Homo sapiens: one gene and its partners. The protein of the gene in region 1 interacts with the protein of each later gene in a pairwise test. Each region holds a gene or a part of one and is shown in the gene's direction. Other genes may lie near its edges.

Evidence for each region.
Region 2: the proteins of ZNF575 (region 1) and SNX33 interact in binary tests that used the Homo sapiens proteins (3 or more experiments, as listed by UniProt).
Region 3: the proteins of ZNF575 (region 1) and SPRED2 interact in binary tests that used the Homo sapiens proteins (3 or more experiments, as listed by UniProt).
Region 4: the proteins of ZNF575 (region 1) and HAP1 interact in binary tests that used the Homo sapiens proteins (3 or more experiments, as listed by UniProt).

What each region holds. Positions count from the first base shown.
Region 1 is NC_000019.10:43,528,760-43,536,608, forward strand, and holds ZNF575 (zinc finger protein 575), read left to right. Parts: upstream 1-4,428; 5' UTR 4,429-4,762; exon of another isoform or gene 4,763-5,035; 5' UTR 5,036-5,143; intron 5,144-5,577; 5' UTR 5,578-5,663; coding exon 5,664-5,742; intron 5,743-6,269; coding exon 6,270-6,928; 3' UTR 6,929-7,328; downstream 7,329-7,849. UniProt on the Homo sapiens protein: May be involved in transcriptional regulation.
Region 2 is NC_000015.10:75,650,610-75,658,575, forward strand, and holds part of SNX33 (sorting nexin-33), read left to right. Parts: intron 1-6,352; coding exon 6,353-6,606; 3' UTR 6,607-7,966. UniProt on the Homo sapiens protein: Plays a role in the reorganization of the cytoskeleton, endocytosis and cellular vesicle trafficking via its interactions with membranes, WASL, DNM1 and DNM2. Acts both during interphase and at the end of mitotic cell divisions.
Region 3 is NC_000002.12:65,331,069-65,339,034, reverse strand, and holds part of SPRED2 (sprouty-related, EVH1 domain-containing protein 2), read left to right. Parts: intron 1-4,261; coding exon 4,262-4,430; intron 4,431-4,447; exon of another isoform or gene 4,448-4,916; coding exon of another isoform or gene 4,917-4,920; intron 4,921-6,983; coding exon 6,984-7,048; intron 7,049-7,966. UniProt on the Homo sapiens protein: Negatively regulates Ras signaling pathways and downstream activation of MAP kinases. Recruits and translocates NF1 to the cell membrane, thereby enabling NF1-dependent hydrolysis of active GTP-bound Ras to inactive GDP-bound Ras.
Region 4 is NC_000017.11:41,724,644-41,732,073, reverse strand, and holds part of HAP1 (huntingtin-associated protein 1), read left to right. Parts: coding exon 1-137; intron 138-330; coding exon 331-436; intron 437-514; coding exon 515-581; intron 582-3,742; coding exon 3,743-3,873; intron 3,874-4,141; coding exon of another isoform or gene 4,142-4,237; coding exon 4,238-4,312; intron 4,313-4,641; coding exon of another isoform or gene 4,642-4,776; intron 4,777-4,929; coding exon 4,930-5,021; intron 5,022-6,176; coding exon 6,177-6,215; intron 6,216-6,919; coding exon 6,920-7,373; 3' UTR 7,374-7,430. UniProt on the Homo sapiens protein: Originally identified as neuronal protein that specifically associates with HTT/huntingtin and the binding is enhanced by an expanded polyglutamine repeat within HTT possibly affecting HAP1 interaction properties.

The sequences.
Region 1 (7,849 bases):
CCTTTACACAGAGAAGGCCTGCTTTTCCTTAAGCCTATCAAATTGCTTCATTAAAATTTTATGTGGCCGGCTGGGCGCGGTGGCTCATGCCTGTAATCCCAGCACTTTGGGAGGCTGAGGCGGGCGGATCACGAGGTCAGGAGTTCAAGACCAGCCTGACCAACATGGTGAAACACCATCTCTACTAAAAATATAAAAATTAGCTGGGTGTGGTGGTGCACACCTGTTATCCCAGCTACTCAGGAGGCTGAGGCAGGAGAATTGCCTGAACTCGGGAGGTGGAGGTTGCAGTGAGCTGAGATCGTGCCACTGCATTCCAGCCTGGGTGATGGAGACTCCATCTCAAAAAAAAAAAAAAAAAAAAAAAAAAAGCATATGGCTGAGCTCATGCACAGGCACTTTGAGCACTTTGGGAGGCCTAGGTGGGCAGATCACTTGAGGTCAAGAGTTTGAGACAGCCTGGCCAACATGGTAAAACCCCATCTCTACTGAAAAAAATAAAATAAAATACAAAAAAATTATCTGGGCGTGGTGGGGCACGCCTGTAGACCCAGCTACTTGGGAAGCTGAGGCATGAGAATCATTTGAACCCAAGAGGCAGAGGTTGCAGAGTTTGCAGTGATCCAAGATTGCACCTCTGCAACATAGCAAAACCCTGTCTGGGCAACAGAGCGAGAGTGTCTAAAAAAAAAAGGCCAGGTGCGGTGGCTCACGCCTGTAATCCCAGCACTTTGGGAGGCCAAGGCGGGTGGATCACGAGGTCAGGAGATTGAGACCATCCTGGCTAACACGGTGAAACCCCGTCTCTACTCAAAAAAAATACAAAAAATTAGCCGGGCATGGTGGCGGATGCCTGTAGTCCCAGCTACTCTCGAGGCTGAGGCAGAAGAATGGCGTGAACCCGGGAGGCGGAGCTTGCAGTGAGCCGGGATCGTGCCACTGCACTCCAGCCTGGACGACAGAGCGAGACTCCGTCTCAAAAAAAAAAAAAATTCCAGGCATGAGGTCTCATGCATGCCTGACTCAAGCTAGACAAAGCTGAGGACCCAGAGGTGACTCAGTCTGGCTGGTAGGCGAGAGAGGTAGGGAAAGCAGGTCTGAGACACAGGGAGGTGTAGGGATTTGGGGAACTCAGGGGAGGGAGGAGCCAGGGAAAGGAAGACCCTCAGGCACTCCTTACTGAGAGGGTCCCCCAAATAAGAACTTCTCGCCCCTGGCACCCTTTCCCGTTGTTTTTGCAGAATTTCTAGACCATTTATGTGTCCTTTGAAGACACACCCTAGGCAGGGTTTATAGGCTCAGCTGTGAGATGTTCTAAGAGTTAGACTTGGCTTCACCCTTCTCAGGTGTAGGACCTTGGGCTGAAAACTTATCTTCTTCTGGGTTCCAGTTTTCTTATCTACAAAATGAGGTTGAAAATAGTTCAATAGCCTGACATAGCACAGGCTCTCAATGGGAACTGCCCATCATTATTTTGTCACTATCCTTGACTCCTTCCTACCCTTGCCACCTCCACCCACTTCCAGGCCCTGCTGAGTTAAACTCTCTCTCTTTTTTTTTTTTTTTTTTTTTGAGATGGAGTCTTGCTCTGTTGCCCAGGCTAGAGTGCGGTGGTGCAATCTCAGCTCACTGCAACCTCCGCCTCCTGGGTTCCAGAGATTCTTCTGCCCCAGCCTCCCAAGTAGCTGGGATTACAGGTGCACACCACCACACCCAGCTAATTTTTGTAGTTTTAGTAAAGATGGGGTTTCACCATGTTGGCCAGGCTGGTCTGGAACTCCTGACCCCAAGTAATCCACCTGCCTCAGCCTCCCAAAGTGCTGGGATTACAGGGCCGAGCCACCGTGCCCAGCCAGATTTAACCTATCTTAACCAGGCCACTTTTCTGTTATCACACCCTCTGCCCCATTCAAGGGGCAGCAAAGCATAAATGCAAATTGCCTGGACTGCAGGGCCAGGCTGAGGGATTCAAATCCTGGCTCTGATACTTCCTGGCTGGGATGACCTTCCCCTCCACACTTCATTTTCCTCCTCTGTACAAGGATGATAGTAGCACCTCCTCTTAAAACATTGCTATGGGGATTAAATAAATTAATGCACATAAGGACAGTTTCCAGTGTATAATAAGTGCTAGCAATTAATACTGTAATTAATATATAACAATACCCTCACTGGTCTTCTGGCTTCTACTCTGCCTTCTTAAAATCATGGTTCTTGAAAATAGCTGTGGCCCTAGAGGTTGGGCGCGGTGGCTCACACCTGAAATCCCAGCACCATGGGAGGCCGAAGTGGGCGGATCACCTGAGGTCAGGAGTTTGAGACCAGCCTGGCCAACATGGTGAAACTCCATCTTTACCAAAAATACAAAAAAAAAAAAAAAAATTAGCCAGGCGTGGTGACGGGCACCTGTAATCCCAGCTACTCAGGACGTTGAAGCAGGAGAATCACTTGAACCTGGGAGGTGGAGGTTACAGTGGGCTGATATCTCGCCACTGCACACCAGCTTGGGTGACAGAGCAAGACTCCGTGCAAAAAAAGAAAGAGGTGGGCACAGTGGCTCACCCCTGTAATCCCAGCACTTTGGGAGGCCAAGACGGGTGGATCACGAGGTCAGGAGATCGAGACCAGCCTGGCCAACATGGTGAAACCCTGTCTCTACTAAAAATACAAAAATTAGCTGGGTGTTGTGGTGAACACCTGTAATCCCAGCTACTTGGGAGGCTGAAGCAGGAGAATCGCTTGAACTCGGGAGGCAGAGGTTGCAGTGAGCCAAGATTGCGCCACTGCACTCCAGCCTGGGGGACACAGCGAGATTCCATCTCAAAAAAAAGAGAGAGAGAGAGACCGAAGTGTCACTTCAAACTAATACAATGTGTGGAGCTCATTTAGATCTTAAGTCAAGCAAATCAAGTGTAATAAAAAGATATTTATGAGATATGATGTTTGACATTTAGCTTCAGAATCATTTGGGAAGAGTGGATGGGGGGTAAATCAAACAATACTGGTCATGAGTGAATAATTATTTTAAAAACTTTTTTTTTAAAGATACGGGGTATCACTCTGTTGCGCAGGCTGGAATGCAGTAACACAATCATAGCTCATTGCAGACATGAACTCCTGGGTGAGTCCCCACTCCCTACCCCCGTGAAATAGCTGGGACTACAGGCTGCCATTAAGCCAGACTTTTTTTTTTTTTTTTTTTTTTTTTTTAAGATGGGGAGGTGTCTCACTATGTTGCCTAGGCTGGGATTTTTGTTTGTTTGGGTTTTTGGTTTTTTTGTTTTTTTGAGACGGAGTCTCACTCTGTTGCCCAGGCTGGAGTGCAGTGGCTTGATCTTGGCTCACTGCAACCTCTGCCTCCCAGGTTCAAGCCATCCTCCCACCTCAGCCTCCGGAGTAGCTGAGATTACAAGCGTGTGCCACCATGCCTGACTAATTTTTGTATTTTTAGTAGAGACGGGTTTTCACCATGTTGGCCAGGCTGGTCTCGAACTCCTGACGTCAGGTGATCCGTCCACCTCCGCCTCCCAAAGTGCTGGGATTACAGGCGTGAGCCACCGTGCCTAGCCCCCGTCTAGTTTGGAAATCCTGGGCTCAAGTGATTCGCCCGCCTCTGCCTCCCAGAGTGCTGGGATTACAGGCATGAGACAGGGAGCCCGGCCTAGGCACTTTCTAGTCTAAACACTTTCCATTGATTATCATATTTAATCCTAAAAACGCTCCATTTTATAGATGAGGAAACAGGCCTAGAAAGAGAGCTAGAAAGGGTCACACGGCTAGAAAGTGGCACAGCCGTATTCCAAACCAGTTACCCAGGCAATCTGGCTCCAGAGTCCAAATAACCCCGCCAAACTCCCAGGGATCGCCAGACCTTGCGGGTTATCGGACTGAGACCCACCCATGCAGAGGACTTTTATGGGCATTTCCTGGTCCTTTCTGCACCAGGCAGGAAGGTGCACCGCCACTGCTCGGGAAGAATGCTAAGCTGCATGCCACCCCAGGCCTGGCACCAAGAGCATGGGCCAGGGCACCTCGGGACCACCCAGGCTTCCGAGGGGGAAGGTAGATGGGTGCGTGGCTGAGAATCTTGAATCACCCAATAGCGAGGTGTGCCAAGGCGCTGTGCAAATAACGTGCCTTTTATTGGGCACTGGCTCTCTTTGAGCCCGGAGTCCCGCCCCCGCCCTCTCTCGAAGAACTGGCCAGACTTTTTGCAAACGCCTTGAAGGGTAGAATTAGCAGCGAGCTCTTGAAACTGCCTCTGGAGATGGAACTCAGCGGAATTCTCGAAAAGAAGAGGGACATTAAAAAGACGGGTGCATGCACTGATTTCCAAGCGCAGTTTGTCCATGTTAGTCTTGTACATGCTTGACTCCAGTCAGCCACCGTAGGCCCCGCCACCGGCGGTGCACTTTCTGTCGATACGGTAGCTTCGCGCTTGCTCACGAACTTGCCTGCCTGGCTGGCGCACCCAGCCCCTCCTTCCATTCCTTCTTCCCCCTCTCTGCAGCCTCTGCCAGCCCGCACTGCGCATGCTTTCTGACGCCCCCTTTGGTCCAGCGTGGGAGGAGGGGATGGAAATGAGGTTGGGCTAAGCAGCTTGCGCGCGCTCCCTTGCCTGCCCTCCCCCGACGCCGGACGCGCGCCGGGCGGGGCAGCTCCGCTGGTCCGAGGGCAGTGCAGCAGCGGCGACAGCGGCTGCGGCCGTGGCCGTGGCGGGAGGAGCCGGAAGCCCCGCCCCCGGGGAGGGGCCGTCCTGCAGGTGAGGGCGCAGGGGTTCGGGCGCGGATATTGGCTTGCAGGCTGAATGCCAGAATCACCCCGAGGGAGATCGGTTGTGGTCCGGACGCCTAGATTCTGGAGATGCTGGAGGGACTGTGCATTGGTGCCAGAGCCTCGGGAGGGTGCATCGGTGCCTGAATGTCTGATTCCGAGGGGTGCATTGAATCCTTTACGCTTGGGACTCTGAGGGAAAAGTCCATTAGGGGTCTCTGGACCGCGACGCATGCCAGGTTCCTTCCGTATCTTCCTCCAGGTCCCCCCTCTATCCTCCACGGCCCCATCCAAGCCAGGGATGAAATTTAACGGCAAGAAGGGCGCAGTTGACGCGGCGTCAATGAACTGAGACTAAGTCAAAAGCCGGGTAAAGCTAGGTCTTCGACGTGAAGCCCCGCCCACTGTGCCCATAGGCCCCTCCCCTGGGACGGTGATGAAAGACCTGCCCACTCCGCTCGAAGGCCCCCGCCCCCTGGGTCTAGTTTCAGAACAAGACTTTTTTTGTACAGCCCCGCCCATTCCAGGACTGCAGGGTCTGGTGGGGAAGGTCCCGCCCACTCTGCGCATAGGCCCCGCCGGCTCCGCGCTTAAGACGGCCGCTGAGTTAGTTGTGGAGACTCCGCCCACTCTGCTGAAAGACTCCAACCCTGGGTTTAGATAGCGAAGGGACTGCCTCTGGCTTGAATTTGCATAGCCCCGCTCACTGTGCTCTTAGGCTCCGCCTCCCCGCTAAGCCTGCCCCCGCCTTAGCATCCCATACTTGCAGACCTTGCTCCTAAACAGTGTGATCCCTCATTTTAGGCCCTCCAACCCTATCCCCATCAGCCTGGTCATCACCGGCGTCACCCCCGCCCCGCGCCCTGCCCCTAGGTTCCTGTGCCAGCAAGATGCTGGAGCGAGGCGCGGAGTCCGCGGCCGGGGCTACCGATCCTAGTCCCACTGGCAAGGAACCAGTGACCAAAGAAGGTGAGAGTGCCCCGCCTGTGAGTAGGGAGCATTCTCCAGGAACGGGGGCCAAAATAATCACATTCTGGGGGAATCTCAGGGTGAAAATTTGAGGGCCCTAGGGTGATGACTATTTGGGATCCCCAAAACTGCCACATTCTGGGAAATCCTCCCATTTGGCTCAGAGAGAGCCTCAGTGACCATTTGCTAAGGCTCAGGAAATGAGCCTTACAGAAGGGACGGGTCAGGGATGACATGCGGGATGTCAGGGTGATCACTGGGAAGATACTAGAAACGGATACCTTGGTAGCTTTGAGGAAGCCTTAGTAGCTTTGGGGATCCAGGAAAGTAACCCTTTGGAGTCCCTCAGAATGACGCCTGGGGGGAGGGGGGAGCAGAAACATGCAATTTGGGGAGTCTCAATGTGATGCTTGAGGTGCCCAGGTACACTTGGAGGAGCCCCACGAATATCAAAGTCGTGGCGGAGCCTGGCCTAGGCCCAGGGCGTTGGCTGCTTCCTGGAGCCCACCAGCCCTCCTGTCCCCCAGCTCCCCACCAGGGCCCACCGCAGAAGCCCAGCCAGTCAGCTCCAGGGCCCACCGCGTCCGCGGGCTCGCCTCCCCGGCCTCGCCGGCGGCCCCCGCCCCAGCGCCCGCACCGCTGCCCCGACTGTGACAAGGCCTTCTCGTACCCGTCCAAGCTGGCCACGCACCGCTTAGCACACGGAGGCGCCCGACCCCACCCATGCCCAGACTGCCCCAAGGCCTTCTCCTACCCCTCCAAGCTGGCAGCCCACCGCCTCACGCACAGCGGCGCCCGCCCGCACCCGTGCCCACACTGCCCGAAGTCCTTTGGCCACCGCTCCAAGCTGGCGGCTCACCTCTGGACCCACGCACCCACCCGCCCCTACCCGTGCCCCGACTGCCCCAAGTCCTTCTGCTACCCTTCCAAGCTGGCGGCCCACCGCCACACGCACCACGCCACCGACGCCCGCCCCTATCCTTGCCCGCATTGCCCCAAGGCTTTCTCATTTCCCTCCAAGCTGGCCGCCCATCGCCTATGTCACGACCCCCCAACCGCGCCCGGCAGCCAGGCGACTGCCTGGCACCGATGCTCCAGCTGCGGCCAGGCCTTTGGCCAGAGACGCTTACTGCTCCTTCATCAACGCAGCCACCACCAGGTGGAGCACAAGGGGGAGAGAGACTGAGCCCTCCCTTGGCTCACTGTCCCCTTCTGCCGCCAGCCCTAGCCAGTAAGAGGTGGGATTTCTAAGACCGACTGTATGAGCTCGCCTCTTCCAGATAGCTGGCAGAGGGCAGGGCAAGGGATTGGCCATTTATACTGGGCTCGAGCTCAGAAGCCCGAGGAACTCTTTGCTCCCCTGCTTTGGGGAGATCTCAAACCATGGACGTGGAGCTGTGGTTTGACAGCGCTGGCTCTGCTTCTCCCCACACACTTACATGGCAAAGGTAAAAAGTCTGCTACTATCGTGGGTTGATGAGGATTGTGGGCAAACAGGCTCTCTTGTTAAAAGTTTAAACTGGTGTCTCCACTTTGGCCATATGACGGTATCTAAGAAATTGAAAATACATACATGCTTGTCTCAACTCTTCCACTTGTAGGAATTTATTCTATAAACTCATGAATGTGAAAAAAAAGCATAGTGTTAAGGGTGTTCACTGCAGTGCGACTGTTGTGGCCAAAGACTGGAAGCAACTCAAGTGCCCAAGAACAGGGGACCGACTATTGAATTACAGCCATGGAATGGAATAGGTAGCCATAGGAAAAAAGGAAGCGCTATATGTACTGATGTGGAAAAATCTCCGATACACTAGGTGATAAGAGCAAGAACAAAGGGTATATACCACTGACCATTTAAAGACATTCAAAAGCCCAAGCTTCAGGCTGGGTGTGGTGGTTCACGCCTATAATGCCAGCACTTTGGTTAGCTTGAGGCCAGTTCAAGAGCAGTCTGGGCAACATAGCGAGACACCATCTCTACCAAAAAAAAAAAAAAAGCTGGCTGTGGTGGCATGTACCTTAGTCCCAGCTACTTGGGAGACTGAGGAAGGTGGATCACTTGAGCTGGCAGGTCAAGGCTGCCATGAGCTGTGATGGTGCCACTGCC
Region 2 (7,966 bases), on another chromosome or scaffold:
CTGGCTCTCTGCTGGGCCCTGGGGAGATGGGGATGGCCTGGATAGAATGGAGCAACTTGTCTTTATTTCTCTGTCTCAATCATTCATTTAACAAATGTGTTGGGCTGGGCACGGTGGCTTACGCTTGTAATCTCAGCACTTTGGGAGGTTGAAGTAGGAGGATCACTTGGGCCCAGGAGGTTGAGACTACAGTGAGCCCGATTGTGCCACTGCACTCCAGCCTGGGTGACAGAGTGAGACCCTGTCTCTAAAACAAACAAACAAACAAACAAACAAACAAATGTGTTGAATATCAACTCTGTGTCTGTGGCAAATGTGCTTCTAGGTGCAGGGATATTGTTGTGCACAGGCCCGGTCTCTGTCCTCATGGAGCTTGATATTTACCTTCTTGTCAGTTCATTCATTTTCTCTGTTTGCATCTCGTTTACCCATCATGCATGGTGTCATGCTGGGTTCTGAGAACACATAGATGACCAGGCCCCAGGCCTTGCCCTTGAGGAGCCGGTAGGCCCTTGGGAGACACAGACCCAACCCAGATAACAAGAGCTCAGAGTGGGGGCCTGTCTTGTGCTCCTTGCAAGTTAACCTCCCCACCTTTGCAGCTTTGGAAGCTACTCTCACCACTGTGTATTCTCTTTATGAGCGTCTTGTCTGTGTGCAGGAAGATCCCTGTCCCCATTTTGCAGATGAAGGAGCTAGTGTCCACAGAAGAGTGGTTGCACAGCCTGTGGCCCGGCTGGGACTGTCCCTTCCTCCTGCCACCTCCCCAAGGACACGTCCATGTTGGCCACTTCCCAAGCCTAGCCATGTTTTCAGTTCTCATGACCCCCTCTGTGGGGGAGGGACAGGATGGGCCTCTGCCTGTTACTGCTGGGGCTGTCCATGAACTGCCGGGGAAATGACTCATCCTGGGTCACACAGGGGCACTCTGGCTGGGCCAGGGGTGCAGAATCAGGGGTCCAGGGCACTGTCCACATGGCCTATCCAACTCCTGCTTCCCAAGCCTGGCTTCTCTTCTTGCCTGAGGAGAGAGCCAGTGGCTGCCCCAGCAGGTGCCTGAGTCCTGGGCACAGCTGGGAGGGCAGATGTCAGGAGAGAGGTGTGATCCTCCCTGGGGCTGCTTGGTAACTCGTCTGCAGGGCGTGGAGCTGGCTCCCTGGCCCTTGGGCCCTGAGGTTAGACCTGGCTTGGTGGGGAGTTTGACTCTGGGTGGGGCCAGGGGGCAGACCTCTGCACTGAGCCTGGGGAACAGGAAACATGTCACCCACCACCACCAGGGAGGGCCTGGGGTAAGCTGGCCTTGCTTTCCTTTACCAAGAGGTTGACTTCTATAACTTCTCCAGCTCCCAGCCTCCTTTCTCCCCTTGCTATATCCTCTTCCTCTTCCTTTCTTTCTGTTTTTTTTTTTTTTTCTCTCATCTCTACCTTTCTTCCTCCTCCTCTGAACTCCAGGAAACACAAACCTGAGTGCTAGTCTTGGCTCTGCCCCTAGATTGCTGTGCGTCCCCGGGGAGTGCCTTTGCCCCTCTGGGCCTTAGTTTCCTGATCTGTAAAACAAGGGAATGGGGTCCCAGTGAGCCATCAGGCCTTCAAGGGAGTGGGTGGGAAGGGACTCCTGGGGAGGGTATGGCTCAGAAACAGAATGACACCTTAGCTCTGGCTCTGAGCACTGGGGCAGGAGTAGGGCAGGGGAGGTGGCCAGGCCTGCTGGGGGCCCACTGGGGCAGGTGTCTCCCTGAGCACAAGTGGGAAGGCTGGTTCAACCAGCTCCTTAGATGGCTTGTTCCTGTGCAGGCAGCAGGAGGGGGAATGCAATGATTAAACAGATGCTCCCATGCAGTGGCTGGGGACCCCCCACCCAGAGCAGAGCTGAGGACATTAGGGCAGCCCCACACCTAGGAAGGACACCAGGGCCTCCCAGGCTGGGGGGAAGCCAGACCAGCCTTTCTGACCCTGGGCAGAGAGACAGAGCTGAGATAGGCCATTTCTGAGTTTCTACTTGAGGTGTTTCTAAGAGTCAGAGGCCACTGTCCTCTGTGCTGGTGCATTTGACCTGAAACAGAGGCCAGCCCACTGCCTTCCCTCCCCGGGAGGACCCCTCCCAATGGGCCAAGCCCTCTCTGGCTTACTCTAAGTTCTGGGCTCTGCACTGCTCCTCCCAGGCCTGTGGTGTGGGGCAAGTTAGGGAGGGGGTACTGAGACAGAACTGGACAGGCTTTGGGGACCACAGCCCAATGGGAGTGATAAGGAGGGGGTCCTAATGCTGGCCTTAGGGGTGGAGCCCTTCTCAAAGAAAAGAGAAGAACAGTTGGGTCCTGGGCCCCCAGGATTCTGTCCAGCCTGTCTGGACATCTGAATGGGTGGTGAGTGTGTGGGAGGAAGGACAGTGGAGGCCTAGGTGGGAGTCAGGAGACCAGGATTTGGACAAACTTTGCATCTGACATGACTTTGGGAGAGATTTCTCCCCTCAGTCTCTAGGTGAGTAAAATGGGACCCGAGGGTCTTCATTTCCTTAGGAGGGCTCCATGTCATGTGAAACTTACATTAAACAAATTTGTATGCTTTTCAGAAAAATAATAAAATGAAATAAAATGGGACATAAACCCTGGCTGGAGCTGAGAGGAGCCTGGTCCTCCCACGGGCCTAGTCCCTGTAGCCCAATCCAGGGGTCTCCTAAGAGAAGGGTAACCATATAATTAACCAGGGCAGTTTGGGGCATAAAAGGGGGCCCTAGCAATAGTGATCCCGGGACAACAGGGGAAAGTAACTGTCCAGGGCAAGCTGGGACGTATGGACCCCCAACTTGACAGCCAGCAAGAGCGGGGCTGGTCCTAAGGCTCACGACAGGTCAGGAGGGCGATGTGGTCACTTCCGTTTTACAGACGAGGTGCAGCGATGCAGATGAGCCTCAGAGCAGGAGCTGGAGTCCAGTGTGTCTGGCTCCGCAGCCCAGGCTGTTTCCACTGTGCCCTCCCAGATGGGGGAGGGGATCCCCAGGGATGGAGAGCTGAGCCAGAAGGCGAAAGAGGAGGGAGGAAGGCTTGGGTGCTCCTTCACTGGTCCTGTGGGCTAGAGAGAGGCCCAGGACCACAGAGCTTCCATGGAGGGGCCATAGGGACAGCGTGGCCAAGGCAAAGTGGCGACTGTAGGGACAAGTTCTTGCCTGGGGGATGGGTGGGTTCAGCCTCTGGGTTCTGAGCCATCATCTAGCCTTCCCTCTACCGCTCATCCTGTAATCTCAGCACTTTGGGAGGCCGAAGTGGGCGGATCACAGGAGTTCGACACCAGCCTGGCTAACATAGTGAAACCCTGTCTCTACTAAAAATACAAAAAAATAGCCAGGCATGGTGGCAGGTGCCTGTAATCCCAGCTACTTGGAAGGCTGAGGCAGAAGAATTGCTTGAACCCAGCAGGCGGAGGTTGCAGTGAGCCGAGATCAAGCCACTGCACTCCAGCTTGGGCAGCAGAACAAGACTCCATCTCAAATTAAAAAAAAAAAAAAAAAAGAAAAGAAAAGCAGTTTTCAAGCCATAACATGTAGCATCTGGAGCTTCTATTGTATCTCAGGTGCGCTCCTTTGAACTGTGTACATATTAGTTCAGTTAAGCCTCAACTATACTATAGGGCAGGTACTATTATTATCCCATTTTACAGATGTGGAAACTCCTTAAAGCACTATACCGTGTGAGAGGTTGTCAACAGCATCACATCTAGTGCAACCTGTCCCACTGGGCAGTGGGGAGACCTGGAGCCCAGGCAAGAGCAGTGGCTTGCTGGAGAGGATACAGCTAGGACTAGGACTCAGACCTCCTGCTCCCTCCTGCCCCCAACCTGGGGTGGATGTTAACTGTCTCCAAGAGGCAGGGGCAAGATGGATTGAGGTGGGAGCTTAGGGAATATCCCTGGGACTTGCAGCTGGTGGGCTCCAACCCTCCTTTCTGCATTTTTGGGACCCAGCCTGTAAGAGGAGTGCTGAGGCAGGAGGTCCCCCTGGGTCCTCAGCTCTCAGGTTAAGTCTTAAGTAGAATGTCGGGGGGATGCTGGACAGGCCTGAGCCCTGACTCCCAGCCTGTGGGGTGGGGTGCATTAGCATTAGCTGGTCCTGGCCCCAGAGCTGAGTCACAGGGTGGAGGGGTAACGGAGAACAGGGTGGGGCCTCTGTTTCCCCCCGACCTCTGCAGCCTTTGCTCCCCATCCCTGGCCTCCTGCCTGTCTGTGGATACCTAACCATTGCAATGGGTTCATTCTTACTCTTTGGGCTCCTCATCAGCAAAAGAGGCCTTTCCTTCCTCTAAGGCCATGGACAGGAAAAGTCTATAGATGCACTTCCACTGTGCCAACTTTCTCGGCAGGTGGAATCCAGGCTAGTTCAGTATCTCCTCTTTAGCTAGGTTCCTTCTGCGGAAGTTTAACTCCAGTTTCTTCACCCTGCTGTTTTCTACCTTTCTTCTTACGGTTCTTCCTACTCCTTGGGACCTTCTTGAATCCCTGTGTCCAACGTCTGGGGGCCCCACACATATGCCTGAAGGACCTGGCATGGGCTCCCTGCAGCAGAAGTGGTGTCCGACCCCCAGCTGTGGAGGACCAGGCAGGAAAGAGGCTGGGAGTCCTGGGCAAGTTCCTGCCCCTCAGGGCCTTGGCCTCCTCTGTACAGTAGTAGGATGGAGGTGGAATCGAGGGTTGGACACCTGATCTTTTGGGCCTTTCTAGCTCTGAAGTCTCTTACTGGGTCCTATCCTGGGCCTTGGGGTGATCCCCCTTCTGCTGCCCAGGGCTGGGCTGTTGAGATGGTGCAGGAGGTGGTCCAGGGAAGGTGGCAGAAGGACTGAGTGGGCTGGGAGCTGGGGAATGCAGATTTCTTTTGGGCGCTGTGTGAGCAGCCCTGGAGACTCTCTGAACTTGAGTCTGTTTGCCTGAAATGCTACTATTAGCCGATTAGCCATGCACTTATCAACTAACATGGATGTTGCCCCTTCTAAAGGCATCCAGAGTTATTCCCAGCATGTAGAGCCCTGGGCCTGATATACAGTAAGTGCTCAATGAATGCATTTAGAATGCACTGGACAATTTGAGCCAGGGAGTGAAGAGAATATTATCTAGACAGCCCTCAAGAGCCCTCCTTAAAGGAGAAGTGGGAAAGCATGGGTATTGAGCATGCTATCTGTGTGTAGTGGGTGCGTTTGCAGTGCTCAGGGGTGTGCTGTCCTCTATGCCAACCCTTCCCTGCTCCTAATCTTCTTTGTATGGTGGATTCTCTGCAGCCCTCGGCGACTGAGTGCCAGGCACAGGCAAACTTCCTTCTCTTCCCAGCAACTGTCCCCACTGGCTTAAAGGCAGAATTCGTCAAGTCCCTTTTAATTCAGAACTGAAATTCATTCACCAGCTGCTTGTTCATTCATTCAGATTCTTCTAAATTGGGTCCTCTGCCCAGGTTCATCTCCACCCCCCATCTGTCACCTGGTTATTACACAACCTCCTCGAGTTCCCTGGGGGCTGGGATGAGGAGGGAACAGGGCGTGCATGTCTGGGAGATACACCAGGTGGCCTTTGAAGAGTTGTTTTAGAATCAGCAGTGTGATGGGGGTGGGGGTGGGGAGCCAGGGCACAGGTGACATGGGAGAGACATTCTGTCAGGGGAACTGGGAGAGGCTCCAGTGTAGAAGTGGCACCTGATCGGGGCCATGAATTATGAATAGGAATCCAGGGGGCAGAGGTAGGAAGGTAGGAAAGAGCCAGGTGAGTTTGACGAACATGGGGGTCAGTGTGGAATGCGTGCAGGGGCCAACTCCCAGAGGTGAGGGCCCCCCAGGCCAGGCAGATTGGTGTGGACCTTGATCTGTAGGTAGTGGAGAGCTAGGAAAGGTGCCCAGCTTGGGATACCTCTTTAGATGCTGCAGAGAACCTGTCAGAGGCTGGGGCGGAGGGCAGGGAGACGTGGCGGGGCTGTTGTAGCAGTCCAGTGAGGGACAGGGTTGAATCAGTTCAGCAGGCCTATATCAGGATCTGCTGTGGGCCAGGCCTTGTTCTGGGTACCAGAGACACAGAGAGGTTGAGGACAGGCTCTATCCTCATTGAATTCATAGTCCATCAAGCAGGGCTGTGACTGGTCACATGTGGGCTACTGGTGGCACTGCACATTTGGAGAGAAGATGATGTGCTTGGTTTAGGAGGTGCTGAGGGTGATGGCTTGGGTAACATCCTGGCAGAGACACCCAGGTGGCTGGAATGTGGGTCTGGGGCTCAGGAATGACGTCCGAGTTGAGCTGATGAGGGTGCTGTCTGCCCTCAAGGGTACAGGGAGCACATGGAGATCAGAGCCCTCACACGCTGTCCTCTGCTCTGCCTATGCCAGGCGCCTTCGCCAAGGTGAAGGAGAGCCAACGCATGAGTGACGAGGGCCGCATGGTGCAGGACGAGGCAGACGGCATTCGCAGGCGCTGCCGCGTGGTGGGTTTCGCCCTGCAGGCCGAGATGAACCACTTCCACCAGCGCCGTGAGCTCGACTTCAAGCACATGATGCAGAACTACTTGCGCCAGCAGATCCTCTTCTACCAGCGGGTGGGCCAGCAGCTGGAGAAGACCCTGCGCATGTATGACAACCTCTGACCGCGTGTGCCTGGGCCCCCTCCTTCCCCTGGGCCTGGTCACTGCAGTGTACCCCACTTTCCCGACCTCCCTATACCAGCAGTGACTGGGGGAGGGGTCAGCGGTGGGGGAGATAAGCGGCCTGTCCTGCCTCCTGGGAGAAGGAGCTTTCAAGGAGTCATGGGTGCCCCTGGGAAATTCCCCACTCCTTAGAAGTGGGGCACAGCAGGGGTGAGAATAGAGTCAGGAGCCCTCGAGGCCAAGGCCTGGGCTGCCGGTCAGTCAGTGAAGGTCAGGCCAGGGTCTCAGCCTCCCCTAGAGCCTATTTTGCTTGCTCACCTGGCCACTGCTGCCTTATCCATTCAGCAGACACCGAGGCCTGCTGCACCCTTGGGTCGGATGCTGGGCACCCAGGGCTGTGACATGCCTGCTCTTCAGGAGTCCTCAGTGAAGGTCGGGGTCAGACACAGACAGAGTCAATGCAGTATGACTGATGTTTAAGTGAGGGATTTCTGGAAGCTCATAGAAGGGACCACAGCATTCCACTGGTCAGGGAAGACTCCATAGAGTAGGCAACATTTGGGCAGTGTTTTGAAGAATGACAAGGGCCTGCCAGACAGTACATGGGGGAGAAGGACTTTCAGGGGAGAGGAACAGCATGGGCAAAGTTATGGAGGCATGCAAACATCTCCCTCTTCTCTCCCTTACTTTCCAAGCAAGTTAGGTACGCTTTCCATGGGGATTCTGGCCTGTGTGGTAGGAAGGGATCTCCCTTGCTCCCATGTTGCTGGCTGTCCGTACATCACCCTGTCCCCTGCAGGAGGGGGCTACAGGCCATCTCCCTCCTGTAGGCCTCTGACTCCCCTCCACTTTTGGGCCCTCAGCTTATCTCGGGCAGGGGACCATTGCAGCATCCTCCCCTCCTCGGACTCAAGGTGCTGAGGTATAAGCCCTGGGCCCCAGATCCCTGGTGACACCTTCCTGGAGAAGACTCTCAAAAGTGACTGTATATTTGAGTTCACCAGCAATAACTCCCCACACTCGAAGCAGGTCCAAACCCAGGATCTCAGGGTCCTTGGGCTCTGTGGCACTGTCTTCCCAAGATCCTTCCTGTTGCACAATGGGAAACCTAAGAGGAAAAAGACAGGGGCCTGCTTGCCCAGCCATGCGAGGGATTCCATGCCCACCTGCCCTCTGTCTGCCTCGCTGGAATGTGGGCCCCTGCTCCCCGTCAGGTTGTGCTGTCTCTGACCTATGTTTACATCCCCGAGGGGTTTCTGCCTCCTCCCCACCCAGGTCAGGGTGTGGTCCAGCAGCTTGCTGTGGGGTGCTGACATGTGTCACCACTGCCCCCCTTGCCCCCGGGGGGGTCATGGTCTCC
Region 3 (7,966 bases), on another chromosome or scaffold:
ACGGGGCGGCTGGCCGGCCAGAGGGGCTCCTCACTTCCCAGTAGGGGCCGCCGGGCAGAGGCGCCCCTCACCTCCCGGACGGGGCGGCGGGGCAGAGGCGCTCCCCACATCTCAGACGATGGGCTGCCGGGCAGAGACGCTCCTCACTTCCTAGATGGGATGGCGGCCGGGAGGAGGCGCTCCTCACTTCCCAGGTGGGATGGCGGCCGGGCAGAGACGCTCCTCACTTTCCAGACTGGGCAGCCAGGCAGAGGGGCTCCTCACATCCCAGACGATGGGCAGCCAGGCAGAGACGCTCCTCACTTCCCAGACGGGGTGGCGGCCGGGCAGAGGCTGCAATCTCCGCACTTTGGGGGGCCAAGGCAGGCGGCTGGGAGGTGGAGGCCGTAGCGAGCCGAGATCACGCCACTGCACTCCAGCCTGGGCACCATTGAGCACTGAGTGAATGAGACTCCGTCTGCAATCCCGGCACCTCGGGAGGCCGAGGCTGGCGGATCACTCGCGGCTAGGAGCTGGAGACCAGTCCGGCCAACACAGCGAAACCCCGTCCCCACCAAAAAAACACAAAAACCAGTCAGGCGTGGCGGCGCGCGCCTGCAATCGCAGGCACTCGGCAGGCTGAGGCAGGAGAATCAGGCAGGGAGGCTGCAGCGAGCCGAGATGGCAGCAGTACAGTCCAGCTTTGGCCCGGCATGAGAGGGAGACCGTGGAAAGGAGAGGGAGAGGGAGACGGGAGAGGGAGAGGGAGACGGGAGAGGGAGAGGGAGACGGGAGAGGGAGAGGGAGACGGGAGAGGGAGACGGGAGAGGGAGAGGGAGACGGGAGAGGGAGAGGGAGACGGGAGAGGGAGAGGGAGACGGGAGACGGGAGAGGGAGACGGGAGAGGGAGAGGGACTCTTTCACTTTCAATAGATCTCTTACTCATCCCTGATTTTGTAACATCATGCACTGGTCACCTGAAAAATAGTGCTCCACTGAGTTAAGCAGATCTTCCAAATGTTGATACATTTTATTCTATAATATCAAAAAACTACATTTCTTAGTATTGCCACTAACTCATTAATATAAAAAAACTACATTTCTTAATATCGCCACTGACTCATTAATATCAAAAAAACTACATTTTTTAATATTGCCACTGACTCATTAGAAAAGTCTTTAAGTACCAGGAAGCTGTCTAGAATTCTAATTTATACTTCAAATATAGATAAGGATGTAAATTGCAGCATTGCCTTCAAGGTGACCAATTCTTACTGACATAAATGTCCGTTAGTATGGAGAATGGTTGAATAAATCTAATACATCCATACAGATGAATTAAACAATTATTTTACCTTCCTGTATCTCTATGACATATTTTTAAGGAAAATAAAAAGCAAGTTAAAAACAACTTATAGGTGTGGCTACATTTAAACACAGTTGCCCTTACACAGAAACTTACCTGTGTATATGTAAAGAAGCCACAAAATGGAAACTGGGATTGTGCCCGCTCTACTGACAGTGGGGAACTCGACAGAGAGGGATGTTGACGGTGGAGGGGAGAGATGAGTAGGAATGGAGTCCTCATGTCTTCAGCTAATACTTAAATCTCCCACAACATGTATTTCTTGTGTAGTTTTTTTTTTCAAGTCTCGAACAAGAACATAATCACTTTTTTTCTCCGTATGCATCTTATTTAAACGGGTATTTTTTAAAGCCTTTCTCAAGTTTTAAGTTAGTGTCTAATTGTGTGCGTGCCAAAACTTCACCAGAGAGTTTATATCTGTTGGGAAGATTAAAGCATCTAAAACCTTTTCATTTTTGTCTTTAAACTTAGATACATATGATACTATTTTGCTTTAGAGGACATAAAGAGATGGTATCTGATTTCCCCCCTCACTTAATTTAGGTGGCTGAACTTATTTTACTCAAACTTTATTTTTTTTTTGAGACAGAGTCTTGCTCTTTCGCCCAGGCTGGACTGCAGTGGCACGATCTCGGCCCACTGCAAGCTCCGCCTCCCGGGTTCACGCTATTCTCCTGCCTCAGCCTCCCTAGTAGCTGGGACTACAGGTGCCCGCCACCATGCCCGGCTAATTTTTTGTATTTTTAGTAGAGATGAGGTTTCACCGTGTTAGCCACGATGGTCTCGATCTCCTGACCTCATGATCCGCCCGCCTCGGCCTCCCAAAGGGCTGGTATTACAGGCGTGAGCCACCGCGCCCGGCCATTTTACTTAAACTTTTCTAAGAAAATGTACCTTTGGAATAATTTCAAAGTTGGAAAATATCAACCAAAGACTAATTTTTTCACCCCCAAAATATGGAGAAACTAGGAGTCTTTGTTTTTAGAATACAAAAAGTTTATTTTGAGACTTTGAATTGAGACTATTAAATTCTAAAATAGATAACATTTGTTAAATTCTTGATTATTTGGATTTCCCCAATGTGGAATGGGGCTGGGCTGACATTTAATCATTGTGCTATTCTTAGGGGGAAATGGCTATAATAAGCAATTTAATCATAAATAGAATTATGGGAGGGAACTGTTGTCCGATCTCAATACAATGTAATAAAGTTAACTGCTTGGGACTACTATTTGATATACCAATTTGAATATTATTCTCATTTTTTTATTAAGTTAGGGAACATTCATTAGACAACCCTTAATTTATTTCTCGTTTGTTTTTTCCTTTTGTTGAGACAGAGTCTCACTCTGTCACCTGGGCTGGAGTGTAGTGGTGCACCTTCTCAGCTCACTGCAGCCTCAGCCTCCCAGGCTCAAGCGTTCCTCCCACCTCAATCTCCTGAGTAGCTGGGACTACAGATGTGTGCCACCACACCCAGCTAATTTTTGTATTTTAGTTAGAGACAGGGTCCTGCCATGTTGCCCAGGCTGGTCTCAAACTCCTGGGCTCAAGTGATCCTCTTGCCTCAGCCCCCAAAAGTGCTGGGATTACAGGCATGAGCCACTGTACTGGCCTCCTTCTTTTTGCTTTGATCTATTCTTAGAATTTATACTTATTTAAAGATATTCTCTAATTTATCTGTATACTAATTTAGGCAGGTCTTTACTCTTGTCCTTCATTTAGTCTAAATTAATAAGATCACATTGCGGTAAATGCAGATCTTTGCCAGAACAAGATTGGGCTATTAAAACTTAGCAAAATCATTATGGTGTTTGTAATGAAGCCATAGGAATAAATATTGTAAGTAGTCTGAGTTTTTTAATGAATAAAGAATGAAGTTTACGTTCAAATTATTGCAATGTTTCTTTTCTATAATATTAAATAAATTCTAGTATCTCTATCAACTGTGCTAGACGGGGTTATTTTATAATCTTGACTTTTTGTAGTCTAGTTAGGGGAACAAGACTAATACACATGAAACTGTTAAAGAATAGTTTGAAATCAGGTACTAAATTGTGAAGATGACAAGAAGGAGAATTGGAGTACATATAAAACTTGACAGGGAAGATATACTGGACAATGAATGTGAATTAGGTTTCTCATTTATTCAGTGTTTTCAGAGCATGTTCTTGTTCTCATTGATAACATTGGTGTTCTTTCCATCTTAGAGATAAAAAGATCAATCTACTCATTACAACTCAGTAAAAGCCAGTTCTGAGATTAAATTGCTAGAAACTTGAATATTGTTCTATTAATCCAAACATAAAGTTAATAGAGACCCAGATCAGGGTGGCAGCAACTGAAATGGGGTTGATATAAAAGCTGTTGAAGGAAAAATGAAATGGACCTGGTGATTAATAATACAGGAGATAGGCAGAGGAGGCAAAGATGACCACAGAGATGATGAGCCAGAGAAAAAGAGTGGAGAGGGATTGGTATTGCCAGAAGTTGGGAGAGGAGAAATTTTAGAGTAAAGTTAATTTTTCAACTTTTGGAATTTGGAGCCTCGGGGGAGGGAAGCTAGATGACCATCAATATAAAAACCCCAACATAAAAGCAGTAATCTGAAATACAGCCAAGACCCAAGACCTGAGCATCAACTTAGTGCCCTGCAGCCAGGAGGAAGAGGAATAACCGTGATGAAGAGAGTGTAGTGAAGGGGTACAACCAGGACAGTGGGGAGCAGCGAAGATCGGATGGTCAGCAGCCAAGCAAAGCCTCCTTTCCCATTGGAGAGACTCACAGATATGTGAAGGCAGGGGTTAGAGGGGTTTTGGTAGTTGCCACCAGTGATGGTTCCTAATTAGACTTCTGTAACCAGACATCATCATGGCTGTTCCACTAGTAACCAGCCTGTGTGTTTCCATCCTTCAGGTGGTATTGGAATGCTATGTAAGAAAGGACTTGGTCTACACCAAAGCCAATCCAACGTTTCATCACTGGAAGGTCGATAATAGGAAGTTTGGACTTACTTTCCAAAGCCCTGCTGATGCCCGAGCCTTTGACAGGGGAGTAAGGAAAGCAATCGAAGACCTTATAGAAGGTATTGAACTTGTCGCTGCATTCTTAGTGGGACTATGGAAATGTTCCAAATTATTTTTAATTCCAATAGTCTGCCATCATTTATTTGTGGTTTATTTGCGGGAGGGTTTGGGACCAGGTCAGTAGATGCCAAAACTTTTGGAATTTCCAAGGAGAGTAATTAAAGTGACAATTCAGGGAAAAGGAGATGGGTTTCAGAGTAAGGAGTAATCCCAATTGATTTTTAGACTCTGCTGTGAAAAAACAGGCAGGTTCTGGATTTCCATGTGCATGTATTTTTGACTGCTTTCACCTTGTCCTGACTATTGAAATGGCTTTGGTCTGGTCTGTCTTGGCTCAGAAGTAGAGAATGGATTCTGGCGGGCCCAGAAGGCTCCTGGCCTACCCACTGTCCTCCTGTAATCAGAGGCCCAGGGTGTACAGCTGCCACTGAAAAGGAAAGGGATCTGTGACCTCTGGAGCCCTGGTTCGGTTTAGGCCTTGGTCTATGGGTAAGTGAGTAGTAGGCATTGTGTTACATCTGATCGTGGCCTGGAGGGCCCTTGGGCAGTCAGTTCTCATGGTGGGCTTGACTAGAGTCCACAGATGCAAACACAAAAATTCTCCACTGCAGCACATCCAGGTATCAAATCAGAGGGTTAAAGAAGCCATAGACAGGGCCCTGTGAAGAAAGAAATATCAAGCAAGGCATGTTAATACCAAATTCAGATCTTGGGGAAATTAATCACAAAAGGATGTATGTTTCATTTGCTTAAGAAATAAAAGTGTTCTGAAGTCATTTTCTTCATTGTGGATTTGGGGGAAGAGGAAAAAAAGCAAGTCTTAAAAGACAAATTACTTAACATTATAATCAGTAGTAAGACAAGACTAGCTAGAACATGAATCCATAAACAAGTATGAGATAGCCAAAAAGAGATAATAAAAACCAGTGTTCAAATCATAGTTCTGACATAAGTGGCAAATATTTAAAATGTTATTAAACACAGCTTTTTCATGTTTAGAGAAAAAACAGCTCCTATATTATTGATAGACGTTCGCATTGTGTCCATGTACTTAATTGCACAACATTTCATTCTCCTACTTGTAATTTTTTTCTCTATATACATACTATCTAGCTTTTTTTTCCACCAGTTTTCCTAGAACATTGGTTGATTGGAGTAATTCAGAGTAGAGACAGCTCCCGAAAGACCAGTAGGAGTTGCACAGAACATACTATGGGACTGTTGTTTTTTCTCCTGCAGTCTCTCGTTGGAAATTTAAGTATTTCTCATCCTTTCTGAGCAATTGTTTTCATTTCAATTTCATGTAATAGCAAAATATTTTCTTTTTCTTTTTTTTTTTTTTTTGAGATGGAGTCTCCAGCCCAGGCTGGAGTGCAGTGGTGCCATCTCGGCTCACTGCAACCTCCGTCTCCCAGGTTCAAGCGATTCTCATGCCTCAGCCTCCCCAGTAGCTAGGATTACAGGCGCCCGCCATCACACCCAGCTAATTTTTGTATTTTTAGTAGAGACAGGGTTTCACTATGTTGGCCAGGCTGGTCTTGAACTCCTGACCTCGTGATCTGCCGGCCTCAGCCTCCCAAAGTGCTCGGATTGCAGGCGTGAGCCACTGCGTCTGGCCAGCAAAATATTTTCTAAATGCATATTTTAAAAGATCTAACCAAGAAAAGGAAAAGATAGAGAATAAATTTCCCTTTTGGTATATCTGTCACTGATGCAATTTTAAATATGTCTTTCTTTTGGCCAATTAAGTTGATCCATGCATTATTGTCTGCTATTCAGGGTGGTGGGGGGAAGTAGGGCAGTTGTACCTGATTCGCATACCAGAATGAAGAAAAAGGTGAACAAGTAATTACATTGAACTCTAAAATCCAATTGGTTCCATGATGGAATAAGGAGGGTTTTCTAACAAGAGCTGTAATTTTGACTTGGAAAAACAAAGCAAACTCACTGATGCCTTGGTATTGCAAGAGGAAACCCCCTTGCACAGGTGTCCCCTTAGAAGGGAGCCCACAATTTGGGATTTAGAAATACAACATCTGAATTCAGAACTGGACACAACCATACAAGCTATTGAGCTAAAATGCCTTCATTGGTAGGTGAAAAGACCAGAGGAGCTAAATCCAGTTTACACAGTAGATTGTGGCAGGTCTCACTTAGGGGTTCCCCGTCCAGTGCTTTTCCCACTACACGGCTGGGACCTCAAGGTCACTACAGAGGCTGGGCTCGATGCATGTCCCTCAGAGGAGTGGGCAGCCTCTCCCCTCACCTCCTCCACAGTGCCTTTCTGTGTGCTTATTCTCTAGCAGCGAGTGCAGAAGTTTGAGAGATTAATTGGGAACAACAGCAGGCAAAGTTAATTTAGGGAGCATCCTGGCAAGAATCAATTAAAGAAGAGTAAATTAAAAGCACTCAATTCCCAGGTAACTTGTTTCTGTTGGTAATTCACATGCAAAAAGAATGGAATGTGGTTTTATTAAAATATACTTTTTTAAACGGTTGGATTTGATGTATCCTCTTGGGAAACACTTTTTATTACATTTTTGTCTTTTTAGGTTCAACAACGTCATCTTCCACCATCCATAATGAAGCTGAGCTTGGCGATGATGACGTTTTTACAGTAAGTTTCCTTTGTCCTTTGCTTTCCAGATTAGTTGTTGAATAATCAGAGAAAGGTTTTGTTTAAGGGCATGAGGCACACTTTGCAATGCAGTGTTTGCTGTTGCTGTTTGGATGGCATCAGAGCGATCTCTGTCTTACTACAATTTTTCTCAGGCTGGGTTTGTCCCTGTTGCTCACGCTGCAGTGAGCAACACTGCACATCTGCCACACAGCACAGCAGTGTCAGCTCTCCCAGGTCTGTCCAAGGTTGTCTTAAAGTCTTTGCTCAGATTTAGGATGACCAGCTGCCCTGGTTTGCCCAAGTCTGTCCTGGTTTTAGCACAAAATGTCCCTAGTCCTGGGAAACACCTCAATCCCAGGCAAGCCAGGACAATCGCTTGCCCTATTTGGAGTCTTCTGTGAACACGCTTCCCTCCCTGGCATCAGGGGGGAAAGCCAGCAGTATCTTTCCTGATGAGTAATTAAACATCTGATAAGAAAGGCCTGCAGGCTGACTTAAGGTTAGGCCCAAGTGTGCTAACGCAGGAAAGGGTTTTTAGCTGTTTTGACACAGCTTGAGTTAATGGGATGTAACTGGAAACAAAATGATTTCTCAGCTTGCTGCTTCAGTTAAATCCTGTGCTTCTAGAAGTTAATTAACAAATAGTTCATTGCCTGCCTGCTGTGTGCTTAGAGCAGCAAGTTACGCGGGACAGCATTTTCTTTCTTTCCTTTTTATTTATTTATTTATTTTCAAAGATGGGGTTTCGCTGTATTGCCTAGGCTGGTTTTGAACTCCTGGGCTCAAGCAGTCCTCCAACTTCAGCTTCTCAAAGTGCTGGGATTATAGGTTTATAGGCTTTAGCCACCACGCCCAGCCTGGACAGCATTTTCAAATTCTGGGCCTTGACCCACAATAAGAAATATATGTATGTTG
Region 4 (7,430 bases), on another chromosome or scaffold:
CAGCTCTACTCAGATTCTGATGAGGAGGATGAGGATGAAGAAGAGGAGGAGGAAGAAAAGGAGGCAGAAGAGGAACAGGAAGAAGAAGAAGCAGAGGAAGACCTGCAGTGTGCTCATCCCTGTGATGCCCCTAAGCTGTGAGTTCCTGCCTTTGCACCTGCAAGTCCTTTCTCTGAGCCTCAATTTCCTCATTTGTTAAGAGGGACACAGGTGATGTGCTTGCTGGCAGGGTTGCTGGAACTAATTGAGAACACTGCCCTTAGCCCTGGTGGGCTGGGAACTGGGAAGCCCCACTCCCTGCACCCTGACTCCCATTCCTCCCTCCCCTAGGATTTCGCAGGAGGCATTGCTGCACCAGCACCACTGCCCACAGCTGGAAGCCTTGCAGGAGAAGCTGAGGCTGCTGGAGGAGGAGAATCATCAGCTGAGAGAAGAGGTGAGAATGGGGGAGGAGGGCGTCCCTGCTAGCAGGGGGTGTTGACTTCCCTGTCCCTTCCTCTTTGTCTCCCTCCAGGCCTCTCAACTCGACACTCTTGAGGATGAGGAACAGATGCTCATTCTGGAGTGTGTGGAGCAGTTTTGTACGTAATGTTGTCACTCGGGGTGGGGGGTTGTCCCAAGGAGCAGAGAAAAGAACTCAAGATGTGGAGTATGGAGATCCAAGTTCAAGTCCCAGATCTGGCACTCCTAGCTGTGTGAACTTGGATACATTCCTTGACCTCTCTGAACCTTTGTCTTTAGAATGGGGATTAATTTTCTCAGCCCCACTGATCTCTCCAGGGTTTATGAAGATTAAGAGTGTCAACAGCTGAGGAAGTACTTTGTGCAAACTATAAAGAGCTATACAGAAATTGTGGGTCTCAGGCCAGGCACGGTGGCTCATGCCTGTAATCCCAACAGTTTGGGAGGCTGAGGCCGGCGGATCACCTGAGGTCAGGAGTTTGAGACCAGCCTAACCAACTTAGAGAAACCCTATCTCTACTAAAAATACAAAAATTAGCCAGATGCAGTGGCACAAGCCTGTAGTCCCAGCTCCTTGGGAGGCTGAGGTGGGAGAATTGCTTGAACCTGGGAGACAGAGTTTGCAGTGAGCCTAGATCACGCCACTGCACCCCAGCCTGGGCGACAGAGCAAGACTCCATCTCAAAAAAAAAAAAAGGTGGGTCTCCTCCAAGCCTGTCTTCTCTTATTTGGGGCAGGCAAGAGGGAGCCATGAGCTGCCAGAGACCAGGCACCCAGGGCTGGGACAGTTCAGAGTCATGCACGGGGCAGTGGCTGTGCCTGGCATCGTCCTAGGCACTGTGTGTTTATGAAGATGAGTGAGGAGCAGTGTTTGTGCCTGAGGAGTTCAAGTGTAGCTGGTGAGATGCAAACGCAAAGTGGCAACAGCTGAACTCCTGCTGTTCCCTTTACCCCAGAACTGACCTTCCTTCCTGCTGGGTTCTGCAACTCCCTGAATGGCCCCACTGGTCCCCAGGCTACTGGAGTAGGAACCAGTCCCCAAGCTCTGTTGCTTTTACCTCCTAGGAATGGCTTAAGTCTTTTTCCCCCTCCCCACTCGGGCTGCCTCTAGCCCAAGATACCTCTTAACTGGTCGCACTGCCTCTACTCGCGCCCTACCAGGAACTTCTGCACACAGCCTTAATGAGTTTTCTAAAACCAAACCTGGCCAGGTGCAGGGGCTCCCACCTGTGGTCCCAGCTACTCAGGAGGCTGAGGTGGGAGGATTGCTTGAGCCTGTGAATTCTGGGCTGTAGTACACTATGCCGACAGGGTCAGTATGGTCCAGGGAGTGGAGTACCACTGGGTTGCCTGAGGAGGGGTGAACTGGCTCAGGTCAGAAACAGAGCAGGTCAAAACTCCCATGCTGATCAGTAATAGGATCGCACCTATGAATAGCCACTGTACTCCAGCCCCAGCCTGGGAACCTGGCAAGACCTCATTTTTTCTTTCTTTCTTTCTTTTCTTTTCTTTTCTTTTCTTTTCTTTTCTTTTCTTTCTTTTCTTTCTTTTCTTCCTTCTCTCTCTCTCTCTCTCTCTCTTTCTTTCTTTTTTTTTTTGAGATGGAGTACAGTGTTGCAGTCTTGGCTCACTGCAACCCCTGCCTCCTGGGTTCAAGTGATTCTCCTGCCTCAGCTTCCTGAGTAGCTGGGACTACTGGTGTGTGCCATCACGCCTGGCAAATTTTTTTTTTTTTTTTTTTTTGACGGAGTCTCACTGTCGCCCAGCTAGAGCAATGTCATGATCTCAGCTCACTGCAACCTCCGCCTCCCAGGTTCAAGTGATTCTCCTGCCTCAGCCTCCTGAGTAGCTGGGATTACAGGCCTGTGCTACCGTGCCCAGCTAATTTTTGTATTTTTAGTAGAGATGGGGTTTCACCATGTTGGCCAGGTTGGTCTTGAATTCCTGACCTCAAGTGATCCTCCCGCCTTGGCCTCCCGCAGTGCTAGGATTACAGGTGTGAGCCACCACGCCCGGCCAAGACCGCATTTCCTTTTTTTTTTTTTTTTTTTTTTTTTTTTTTGAGAAGGAGGCTCCCTCTGTAACCCAGGCTGGAGTGCAGTGGTGTGGTCTTTGCTCACTGCAACCTCCACCTCCCGAGTTTAAGCGATTCTCCTGCCTCAGCCTCCCGAGTAGCTGGGATTACAGGCATGCGCCACCATGCACAGCTAATTTTGGTATTTTTAGTAGAGATGGGGTTTCACCATGTTGGGCAAGCTGGTGTTGAAATCCTGACCTCAAGCGATCCATCCCCCTCAGCCTCCCAAAGCGCTGAGATTACAGGCATGAGCCACTGTGCCTGTCCCAAGACCTCATTTCTTAAAAAACAAGTAGCCGGGTGCAGTGGCTCACCCCTGTAATCCCAGCACTTTGGGAGGCAGAGGCAGGTGGATCTCTTGAGGTCAGGAGTTTGAGACCAGCCTGGCCAACATGGTGAAACCCCGTCTCTACTAAAAATACAAAAATTAACTGGGCGTGGTGGCGCATGCCTGTAATCCCAAGTACTCGGGAGGCTGAGGCAGGAAAATCGCTTGGACTCGGGCGGCAGTTACAGTGAGCCAAGATTGCACTATTGCACTCCTGCCTGGACGACAGAGATTCGGTCTCAAATAAATAAATAAATAAACCAACAAACCCAAGTCTGACCACGTCATTACTGTGCCTAAAACTCCCAAATAGCTTTCCATTGGCCAAAGGATAAACCCCACCCCCTTGCCCACTACTGTGGTCTGGCCTGTGTGCACTGTTCTGGGCCCTCCCCGTCCCAGTGTCTTATGATGGCCTCTGGGCCTTTCCAGTCAGCTTGGACCCATGTTTTTCCTTCTTTGCCTGGGTGAGCTTCACTTGCCCTGTGGTCTTAGCTTAGTGGTTCCTTTTTCCAGGAATCCTTCCTTACCTTGCAGGTCGGGTTGGGTGCTGTAGCTGTGATGCCCCTGCCCTGTACACCCTTGACATTTGCCCATCATGGCCTGTATGATGTGTGACTGTGGTCTGTCTCCCCACCAACTTTACCTCAGTGTGGCGGCTGGGTCTTACTGACCACTCACCCTGGTGCCCTGCTCAGTATCAGTCAATGAACATTTCTTGAATGGAAGACCTGAGTGAGGAATGCAAAGCCCTGCAGGACCCACTGGCACAGCGCAGCAGCCGAGGGTGGGGGAGACAGAGGCATCTGGGAGGGCCAGAGCTGGTCCCTGAAGGCCAGGGGAGCCAGGGCTGACCTGTCCTCTGCCCTCCCCAGCGGAGGCCAGCCAACAGATGGCTGAGCTGTCGGAGGTGCTGGTGCTCAGGCTGGAAAACTATGAACGGCAGCAGCAGGAGGTCGCTCGGCTGCAGGCCCAGGTGCTGAAGCTGCAGCAGCGCTGCCGGATGGTGAGTCGGGTGTGTGTGGAACCCTCTTGTCGTGGCCCCATGGGACCCTAGCTTCCTTCTTCCTGCCTCCACTCGGCTCCACCAGGCCTGAGGTCCCTTTCTGTGTCAGAGTCAGAGACCTCAGAGAGCCCCTTATCTTGACCCCTTGTTATCTTGAGGAGACCAAGGCCCAGAGAGGGTCCTGGAGTCTTCTAGGAACCAGGCTGCGTGACTCCCCTGCCTTCTTTGCCCTCCTTCCGTGTGACTTGTCATTTCATGGGCTGCCAAGGACTCACTGATGTGCCTGGGAAGACTTGCTGGAAGCAGGGGGTGCCCTGAGTGGGTAGGCCTCAGATGGGGGTTCACTGGTTTTGGGTCCTTCCAGTATGGGGCTGAGACTGAAAAGTTGCAGAAGCAGCTGGCTTCGGAGAAGGAAATCCAGATGCAGCTCCAGGAAGAGGTGAGTCTCGCTGCCGGCTTCTGCCCCCACCCTGGAGAGCCGCTGGCCCAGAGTGGGGACCCCAGGCCCTTGGCAGCTACCTGACTCTGGAGAGGACTAGCAGGAACTGAGTCTTGTCCGTTTCCACCCCCTCCATGCCTGGCACAGCCCAGCAGGTGACAGTTCCATCAAGGTCTGAGTGGTGTGGAGTGCAGGGACCTGCCCTGGGTCCCCCACATGACACTTGGAGTCCAGAACCTGGGCCTCTGGCCTCAGCCTGAGAGCAGATAGGCAGGAGTGCTGGACTGGGTGTGCCTGGGTCCCAGCAGAGCGTGTGGGTGGGTTCCCAGCTGCAGGACCTGCGGGAGAAGTACATGGATTGTGGGGGCATGCTGATTGAGATGCAGGAGGAGGTGAAGACCCTCCGCCAGCAACCCCCAGTGTCCACTGGGTCTGCCACCCATTACCCATACAGCGTGCCTCTGGTGAGGACCCTCCCCTGGCTGCCCACTTTCCTACGTCTGTGCCTGTGTCTCAGCCTTGGTGGCTGATTGAGATCCCAGTTCCCTTCTGTGCCTGAGCCTATGGGTGGGGGTTCTGTGGGGGTCCTCTGGTAACGTCTGTTCTCTCCACCATAGGAGACTCTTCCTGGTTTCCAGGAGACGCTGGCTGAGGAGCTCAGAACGTCTCTAAGGAGGATGATCTCAGACCCTGTGTATTTTATGGAGAGGTGCGTGGCTGGGGCCCTCCCTTGCCCCATAGGCCATGGCCTTTCCTGTAGTGGGGAGGGGGTTTGCCCTCACACTCTGACCTTCCACGCTTCCCTATACCCGCCTCGTTCACTGCATCAGCCCCTCCACTCATTGCTTCTCTATGAATATGGACCCATCACTTCCCCCTGAGGTATTTTTTTTTTTTTTGAGATGGAGTCTTGCTCTGTCACCCAAGCTGGAGTGCAATGGTATGATCTTGGCTCACTGCAACCTCTGCCTCCCAGGTTCAAGCAATTCTCCTGCTTCAGCCTTCCGAGTAGCTGGGATTACAGGCATGTGCCATCACGCCCGGCTACTTTTTGTATTTTTAGTAGAGACACAGTTTCACCCTGTTGGCCAGGCTGGTCTCAAGCTCCTGACCTCAGGTGATCTGCCCGCCTCAGCCTCCCAAAGTGCTGGGATTACAGGCGTGAGCCATCATGCCCAGCCTGAGGTTTTTTTTTTTTTTTGAGACGAGTCTCACTCTGTCACCTGGACTGGAGTGCAGTGGCGAGATCTTGGCTCACTGCAACCTCCATCTCCTGGGTTCAAGCGAGTCTCCTGCCTCAGCCTTCCAAGTAGTTGGGACTACAGGCACGAGCCTGGCTAATTTTTTTTTTGTTTTTTGAGATGGAGTCTTGTTTTGTTGTCCAGGTTGGCGTGATCTCGGCTTACTGCAACCTCCGCCTCCTGGGTTCAAGCGATTCTCCTACCTCAGCCTCCTGAGTAGCTGGGACTACAGGTGGCCATCACCACGCCCGGCTAATTTTTGTATTTTTAGTAGAGATGGGCCAGTAGAGATGTTGGCCAGGCTAGTCTTGAACTCCTGACCTTGTGATCCACCCGCCTGGGCCTCTCAAAGTGTTGGGATTATAGGCGTGAGCCACTGCACCTGGCCAAGCCCAGCTAATTTTTGTAGTTTTAGTAGAGACGGGGTTTTACCATGTTGGCTAGGCTGGTCTTGAACTCCTGACCTCAGGTGACCTGCCCACCTCGGCCTCCCAAAGTGCTGGGATTACAGGCGTGAGCCACTGCTCATGGCCACTACCTAAGGTTCTTCAGCTTGACCAAGCCCCAGGGACTGCAGTTTCGGCTTCCATTGTCTCATAATGAAGGTCCTTTTCTCTTTGAAGGAATTATGAGATGCCCAGAGGGGACACATCCAGCCTAAGGTAAGCCTGCCAGGGGCTCCCCTACAACCTGCCCTCAGCTTTCAGCAGCCAGACAGCCCACCTGCCTCTGGTTCTGCCACCCTGCAACTCCGGAGAAGGCCCTGCTATCTCGGCTGGCTGAACTGAGAACTGTTCTGGGAAGGAGCTGCCCCACTTTTCCTTCAAATCTTGCCCCCTGGGTGGCCGTCTGATTCCAGGCAGCTCTGAGTGGGGACTGAAGCTTTCTTTTCAACTGACTATGGGCTGAGAGGTGACAGGCACTGGCTTAGGAGCTGGGAACACCTGGGACTAAGGCCCAGCGTGGTCCCTTTCCTGACTGTGTGTCCTTGGGCAAGTCATTTGACCTGTCTGAGCCTGTCTAGAATGGATTTGTTCCTATGGCAAGTAGCTGTGGGGTGGGCTATGAAGGTTAAATCATGCAGGAGGGAGGCAGAAGTGGGTGTTAACCCTGTTGGTGTATTCCGTGCAGGGTCAGGGACATAAAAGAAGATGGGGCCTATGCAGTGTTGGTGACCATTCTTCCTCCCTCCCACCAGGGGGATGGGCTGGGTATTTGAAGCCTTGGAGCTGGTACCTAGCTCCCCTCTCCCCTGGCTGGGACAGAACCAGGAGGAACCATCAGGATCTGTGTGGAGACGGGTGGGGGTGGGCCTGGGGGGTTGGACTTTCCAGCCCCTCAAAAGATGTCGCTATCTCCCGCCCAGGTATGATTTTCGCTACAGTGAGGATCGAGAGCAGGTGCGGGGGTTTGAGGCTGAGGAAGGGTTGATGCTGGCAGCGGATATCATGCGGGGGGAAGATTTCACGCCTGCGGAGGAGTTCGTGCCCCAGGAGGAGCTGGGGGCTGCCAAGAAGGTGCCGGCTGAGGAAGGGGTGATGGAAGAGGCAGAGCTGGTGTCAGAGGAGACCGAGGGCTGGGAGGAGGTGGAACTGGAGCTGGATGAGGCAACGCGGATGAACGTGGTGACATCAGCCCTGGAGGCCAGCGGCTTGGGCCCTTCACACCTGGACATGAATTATGTCCTCCAGCAGCTGGCCAACTGGCAAGATGCCCATTACAGGCGGCAGCTGAGGTGGAAGATGCTCCAGAAAGGTGAGTGCCCCCACGGGGCCCTCCCTGCCGCCAGCCGGACAAGCTGCAGATCGTCGTGCCGATGAAAAGAGAGGGTGGATAAGCTCCCCGAGTGCTCACCTGCCCCAGCCTGGCTCTACCTG